Linked DNA regions of Homo sapiens. The protein of the gene in region 1 purifies or fractionates together with the protein of each later gene. This does not show direct contact. Each region holds a gene or a part of one and is shown on either strand. Other genes may lie near its edges. The genes, in order: C1orf146 and PLBD1.

Region 1 (3,823 bases):
TTGCGTGTTCTTGATGCAAGTCCTCATTCTTTGAAGTTAGTGTGCTGAAATGGGAATCATTGCTTTTGATACTTGTTAATGGGAAGCATAGTATTGAATAGGCTAAATGTATAACAAGACAGATACTTTTTCTGTTGTCAAATTTTGATGTTCAAATATTCTTTAAAATGTCTCCAATACCCTAGTTTTATTTCCATCTTTAATTTACTCATTCATCAGATATTTCTTTGCATTCTTTGTGTTCTTAATTTTCTCAGATTGTTGCACCATTAGAAGCTAGGTTGATCCACAGACAGATGGCTGAAAGTGGAAAAGAAAAAATAAAATGGACAACCACCATTATTATTAGCTCATCTCTTAAGGTAAAGGGGCATTTGGGCCACTGATCTTTAACTTAAAAAAATTAAAAGCAGCTTTCATATAGAACAACATTTTAAAAGGTTCTTAGCTTAATTATCCACAATTAATTGTGGGGAGCAGGAAGTACATAAGCTAAATGTATTTTAAAGATAAATTAATAGACTTTTTCCATTCATTTTCAACATCCGACTTCCTTAATTCTTTGAAGGTTGGAGATTTTCTAAAGTTTTTTTTTTTTTCCTTCTGTAAGCACTCTAATAGAGATGTTAAGGAATTCCGGAAACAGTAAAGATATGCAAATATATATTAGTTAAGGCTTTCTGAGAGCTAAAGAACCAGAAACTGATATCCTAGCCTTGGCAGCACTGGAATGAGACTGTCTCCTTATGGTTTGGAGAGGGAGAGATGGAAAGTTGAATGCCTGAGAGCAGGTGGTCAGCTCACAACCGTTTTAAACTCCTCAGCTCACAAGACTTCTCCATTGCCCTGATATTTATCTTACGGACACCAGCTGATGTCTGGAATGAAGGGGCAAGAAATGATTGTTCCATAGTAACGTGTGGTTTTATGCTTTTTGCTGTATTTTGTTTTATACTTTGTTGTGAGTCCATTTTCATAAATTATATATATTTTTATTATTATACTTTAAGTTTTAGGGTACATGTGCACAGTGTGCAGATTAGTTACATACATATATATGTGACATGCTGGTGCGCTGCACCCACTAACTCGTCATCTAGCATTAGGTATATCTCCCAATGCTATCCGTCCTCCCTCCCCCCACCCCACAACAGTCCCCAGAGTGTGATGTTCCCCTTCCTGCGTCCATGTGTTCTCATTGTTCAATTTCCACCTATGAGTGAGAACATGCGGTGTTTGGTTTTTTGTCCTTGCGATAGTTTGCTGAGAATGATGGTTTCCACCTTCATCCATGTCCCTACAAAGGACATGAACTCATCATTTTTTGTGGCTGCATAGTATTCCATGGTGTATATGTGCCACATTTTCTTAATCCAGTCTATCATTGTTGGACATTTGGGTTGGTTCCAAGTCTTTGCTATTGTGAATAGTGCCGCAGTAAACATACGTGTACATGTGTCTTTATAGCAGCATGATTTATAGTCCTTTGGGTATTACCCAGTAATGGGATGGCTGGGTCAAATGGTATTTCTAGTTCTAGATCCCTGAGGAATCACCACACTGTCTTCCACAATGGTTGAACTAGTTTACAGTCCCACCAACAGTGTAAAAGTGTTCCTATTTCTCCACATCCTCTCCAGCACCTGTTGTTTCCTGACTTTTTAATGATTGCCATTCTAACTGGTGTGAGATGATATCTCATAGTGGTTTTGATTTGCATTTCTCTGATGGCCAGTGATGGTGAGCATTTTTTCATGTGTTTTTTGGCTGCATAAATGTCTTCTTTTGGGAAGTGTCTGTTCATGTCCTTCACCCACTTTTTGATGGGGTTGTTTGTTTTTTTCTTGTAGATTTGTTTGAGTTCATTGTAGATTCTGGATATTAGCCCTTTGTCAGATGAGTAGGTTGTGAAAATTTTCTCCCATTTTGTGGGTTGCCTGTTCACTCTGATGGTAGTTTCTTTTACTGTGCAGAAGCTCTTTAGTTTAATTAGATCCCATTTGTCAATTTTGGCTTTTGTTGCCATTGCTTTTGGTATTGTAGACGTGAAGTCCTTGCCCATGCCTATGTCTTGGGTGGTAATACCTAGGTTTTCTTCTAGGGTTTTTATGATTTTAGGTCTAACGTTTAAGTCTTTAATCCATCTTGAATTGATTTTTGTATAAGGTGTAAGGAAGGGATCCAGTTTCAGCTTTCTACATATGGCTAGCCAGTTTTCCCAGCACCATTTATTAAATAGGGAATCCTTTCCCCATTGCTTGTTTTTCTCAGGTTTGTCAAAGATCAGATAGTTGTAGATATGCGGCGTTATTTCTGAGGGCTGTGTTCTGTTCCGTTGATCTATATCTCTGTTTTGGTACCAGTACCATGCTGTTTTGGTTACTGTAGCCTTGTAGTATAGTTTGAAGTCAGGTAGTGTGATGCCTCCAGCTTTGTTCTTTTGGCTTAGGATTGACTTGGCAATGAGGGCTCTTTTTTGGTTCCATGTGAACTTTAAAGTAGTTTTTTCCAATTCTGTGAAGAAAGTCATTGGTAGCTTGATGGGGATGGCATTGAATCTATAAATTACCTTGGGCAGTATGGCCATTTTCCCGATATTGATTCTTCCTACCCATGAGCATGGAATGTTCTTCCATTTGTTTGTATCTTCTTTAATTTCATTGAGCAGTGGTTTGTAGTTCTCCTTGAAGAGGTCCTTCACATCCCTTGTAAGGTGGATTCCTAGGTATTTTATTCTCTTTGTAGCAATTGTGAATGGGAGTTTGCTCATGATTTGGCTCTCTGTTTGTCTGTTATTGGTGTGTAAGAATGCCTGTGATTTTTGTACATTGATTTTGTATCCTGAGACTTTGCTGAAGTTGCTTATCAGCTTAAGGAGATTTTGGGCTGAGACGATGGGGTTTTCTAGATACACAATCATGTCATCTGCAAACAGGGACAATTTGACTTCCTCTTTTCCTAATTGAATAGCCTTTATTTCCTTCTCCTGCCTAATTGCCCTGGCCAGAACTTCCAACACTATGTTGAATAGGAGTGGTGAGAGAGGGCATCCCTGTCTTGTGCCAGTTTTCAAAGGGAATGCTTCCAGTTTTTGCCCATTGAGTATGATATTGCCTGTGGGTTTGTCATAGATAGCTGTTATTATTTTGAGATACGTCCCATCAATACCTAATTTATTGAGAGTTTTTAGCATGAAGGGTTGTTGAATTTTGTCAAAGACCTTTTCTGCATCTTTTGAGATAATCATGTGGTTTTTGTCTTTGGTTCTGTTTATATGCTGGATTACATTTATTGATTTGCGTATATTGAACCAGCCTTGCATCCCAGGGATGAGGCCCACTTGATCATGGTGGATAAGCTTTTTGATGTGCTGCTGCATTCGGTTTGCCAGTATTTTATTGAGGATTTTTGCATCAATGTTCATCAAGGATATTGGTCTAAAATTCTCTTTTTTTGTTGTTTCTCTGCCAGGCTTTGGTATCAGGATGATGCTGGCCTCATAAAATGAGTTAGGGAGGATTCCCTCTTTTTCTATTGATTGGAATAGTTTCAGAAGGAATGGTACCATCTCCTCCTTTTACCTCTGGTAGAATTAGGCTGTGAATCCATCTGGTCCTGGACTCTTTTTGGTTGGTAAGCTATGGATTATTGCCACAATTTCAGCTCCTGTTATTGGTCTATTCAGAGATTCAACTTCTTCCTGGTTTAGTCTTGGGAGAGTGTATGTGTCGAGGAATTTATCCATTTATTCTAGATTTTCTAGTTTATTTGCATAGAGGTGTTTGTAGTATTCTCTGATGGTAGTTTGTATTTCTGTGGGATC
Region 2 (3,823 bases), on another chromosome or scaffold:
CCTGGATCCCAGAGGTAGTGATGGAGAAGGTCATGGAAGATTTTCTTATGAAACGTATAATCCTGTTAACATTTGCATATGTATCCTTCCAGATGAGATACACAAGTAGATTTCATAGATAATATGTAGAGCTTTTTGGAGCAATTGAATCTCCAAGAGAGCAACAGACAGTTTTATATATACCCCAAAACATTTTTACAGGAGCCAATGGAACAGTGGGATTCATATTTTCTCTAACTGGGCAGCTTTGTTCTCAGCACCAAACAGGAAAACATGTGCAGTCTCATTTATGTTACAACTTATTTTATTAAGGGACCAGCCACATTGGATTCATCCAGTAGACATGACATAGAACTATGCTTTACGATGAAGCTCATGCCATCTTAGCTGCTGAGTCCAGAACAAAGCTGGATGGCTTCCTTGTTTTTCTTTGATGGAGTTGTTTAACAGGCTTGGTCTTTTTTAGTCTTTTCTAAAATACAAAGTGGAGATTGAGGAAATTATTTCACCTAAAGAGGCTAACATGCAATACCCAGGGAAGGTCAAAAGTATACCAAAGTATACCAGGTGCTGATAACCTCAGTACCACCCTTAGGTCTGGGCACAGGAACCCCACCCTCCCAGCTTGGAATTACCTTCATGAAAATTACCTAAATCCCCCTCCAGCATCCTGAGACTGGCCAGGCTGGCAGTATCTTGACCTGTGTCTCTGTGCATCTAGTTTAGAAAGCTCCTTTCCAGAAAATTTCAAAATCCCCTTCTAGTGCCCAAGACTGACCAAGGTGGCAGAGCCATCCAGGTCAGCTTCTCTGAGTCCAGAAAGCAACGCATGTGGACTCCCTATCTGGGGGCTCTTCTCCTCCATTCCTGCCCACGCATGGGTTCAACAAGATGCCCTAAGGAGCTCTGGGACTCAAGCCTATGGCCTGGTCCTGGTAAGCAGATTCCTCTAGTTGGCCCTCACAGTATATATTTTTTGCAAGATGGTGCATAACTGAGCTGTCAGAACGGTGGTCACACGATGACCTGGGGTGACTCTCATGTCAGAGCATATGTTCAGGGCTCTATGCTACTGAAAACCACCTCTTACCCTCGGGTTTCAGCATGCAGCAGGGGAGGACGGTAAAGCGAACTTCGACCTATGAGCTCCACATCTGGCCCCTGTCGTGGCCTCCTCACCCCTGCAGCTCTGTACCATGTGTCGGTCAGTCCTTGGGGCGGGCTAGGCCTGGCCCCTCTGAGGCCTTTTGAGAACCTTGCTCCACAACACAAACGGGCCTTTGCAGCAAATCTTTTGCTGCAGTTGGTGATGTGACTTCCTACTGTCTTGGGTCAGTCTTAAGCCAGATGGATTTTTCTGGTGTGATTGGGACAGCTCTTCCAGCTCGACTTATAGGCTTCTCACCTATCCTACCCACTGGTGCCCGTGGGTGAGGAGTGAAGGTGGGGGAGGGTTCAGCATGAAAAGAGATTTGACTCATGAAGACTTGACTTAAATTGTGAAGCCTTAAATTATGAAAACTTTACTTAAATTTTCCTGGGGCTTTTAGCCTGTTCTTTTATCTTTTTATGTACCTACTTTCAAATACATGCACTTAACATTTAAACAGGCTAAGCAGGCTCATGCCTGTAATCCCAGCAATTTAGGAGGCCAGGGTGGGCGGATTATCTTGAGCTCAGGAGTTTGAGACCTGGGCAACATGGCAAGAGCCCGTCTCTGCAAAAATACAAAAAAATCAGCCGAGTGTTGGTAGCTCATGCCTGTAATCCCAGCTATTTGGGAGGCTGAGGCTGAAGAACAGCTTGAGCCCTGGAAGCAGAGGTTGCAGGGAGCCGAGATAGCACCACTGCACTTCAGCTTGGGGGACAGAGTGAGGCCTCGTCTCAAGAACAACAACAAAGAGATTACATTCTAGGGAGGCAGCAATTAGCCTGAAGAGTCCAACAGAAAACATGTCGATCTATGTTTACACTGTAAAATTCCCAGTGTAGCTTTAGTAACCATAAAACAAATTATCATTCACAATTTTTTTAACACTCTGGGTAAGGCTTGCATTTGTGGTCATCATTAACAAAGCATAATAAGGATTTTTGAGTCATTAGAAGCCAGGATTCACAGGTAGAGTGGTAGATGTCGCAAAGTCATTAAGAAAATGGTGTTAGGGAACTGCAGAGGCAAGGAGATCTGTGTTGTTTCAAAACAAACAGGTTCCAAAAAGTCATGGTTTTGTAATAACAGTATTGCTACCTTTTTCTCATAACAAAAAATAGGAAATTAGCCAAGAACAATGCATTTAATAATAAAGAATACAAAGAGATGGTACCTGGATACTGTAACAAATCTTCACGTGCACTGATTGGACAATAGACAAAACAGATTGCCTTTCTCTGCCCATCATCCTAAATCTTCAATGATAAATCATCATATCTCACATGTACTGATGAATTTTTAAATATATGTTTTTAATCAAATTGTTTATATAGGCAGGGGCCCTGTTAAAAAAGACAAACAAACAACAACAAAACAACAACAACAACAAAAAACACTTGCCTGAGGCACTGGATACCCAAAGGAAAGTGGCTTTGAATGGCCTTGTTCTAGGAGTTTCTGTCCCTAACAAGAAGGGTTTTGAATACATGGTCTGTTTGCCTAGTAACAGCTAAGGCTGAGTAAGGAATGGAGAAGCCTTGCACTAGCCCTCCCCACACATTTACTTATTTTGGCAATGCAAATTAATAATCAAGGAGGTAAGACAAAGAGATAAATCACTAGAAAATGACGGCACTGAAATGGCAGCCAATACAATTGTGTGAAGACCTCAGCACAAAGATCTGATAGTTTTAACCAATCCAGAGAAAATTTACTTGTCAACAACATTGAGTCTTCCAATCTACTAATATAATCTATTTGTTTATTTCAGTCTTTAATTTGAGTCATATCATGTAGTTTTCAGTATTTAGGTCTTACATACCTTTAAGTAAGTTAAATCCTAAGTAATGTTTGATGCTACTGTAATCAAAATGTTTTTTATTCTTTTTTCAGTTGTTTGTTGCTCATATGTATTTATTGGTTACCCATTGCCACATAACAAATTGCTCCAAACATTAGTGGCTAAAAACAATAATGATTTAGTTACTCATGGTTTCTGTGGATCAGGAATTTAGATAGGGCACAGTGGGGATAATTTGTCTCTACTGTGACTGGGGCCTCAGCTGGAAGACTCAATGACTGAGGGGCTAAAATCTCTGATAGCTTAACTGAGACTGGAACATGCACTTCCAAAACGACTTACTAACATAGCTGACAGGGTGGTGCTGGCAACTGGTTCCTCTTCACTTGGGCCTCTCCTCAGAACTGCTTGAATGTCCTTCATGGCAAGACCCCTGGCTCCAGACGAAGCCATCCAAAAGAACAAGGCAGAAATAGTAATGCCTATTGTGACCTCACCTCAGACGTCACACACGCTCACTTCCACCAGGTTCTATTAATTAGAAGCAAGGTGTTATGACCAGCCCACATTCAAGGAAAGGCGATTAGAATCCACCTTTTAAAGAGAAGGGTGCCAAAGAATTTGTGGAAATTTGAAAACTACCACAATGTATTACGATTTTTTTGTACATTATTATCCTGAGATCTTTCTAATAGCTTTTTTGTAGATTCCTTGGGATTTTCTATATATACAATCATGACATCTCTAAATAAAGACAGTTTGACTTCTTCCATCCCTTGTATGTCTTTGATTGTTTTTTTGTATGATTGTGCTGGAGAAGACCTCCAGAATAATGGAGACCATAAGTGGTGAGCATGCAAATCCTTGCCCAA

The links.
Region 2: the proteins of C1orf146 (region 1) and PLBD1 purify together in Homo sapiens (affinity purification with mass spectrometry; one large-scale study listed by BioGRID and IntAct). This does not show direct contact.

The regions. Positions count from the first base shown.
Region 1 is NC_000001.11:92,231,125-92,234,947, forward strand, and holds part of C1orf146 (protein SPO16 homolog), read left to right. Parts: intron 1-257; 5' UTR 258-296; coding exon 297-362; intron 363-3,823. UniProt on the Homo sapiens protein: Plays a key role in reinforcing the integrity of the central element of the synaptonemal complex (SC) thereby stabilizing SC, ensuring progression of meiotic prophase I in male and female germ cells.
Region 2 is NC_000012.12:14,529,712-14,533,534, reverse strand, and holds part of PLBD1 (phospholipase B-like 1 precursor), read left to right. Parts: intron 1-286; exon of another isoform or gene 287-472; intron 473-2,324; exon of another isoform or gene 2,325-2,493; intron 2,494-3,293; exon of another isoform or gene 3,294-3,396; intron 3,397-3,823. UniProt on the Homo sapiens protein: In view of the small size of the putative binding pocket, it has been proposed that it may act as an amidase or a peptidase.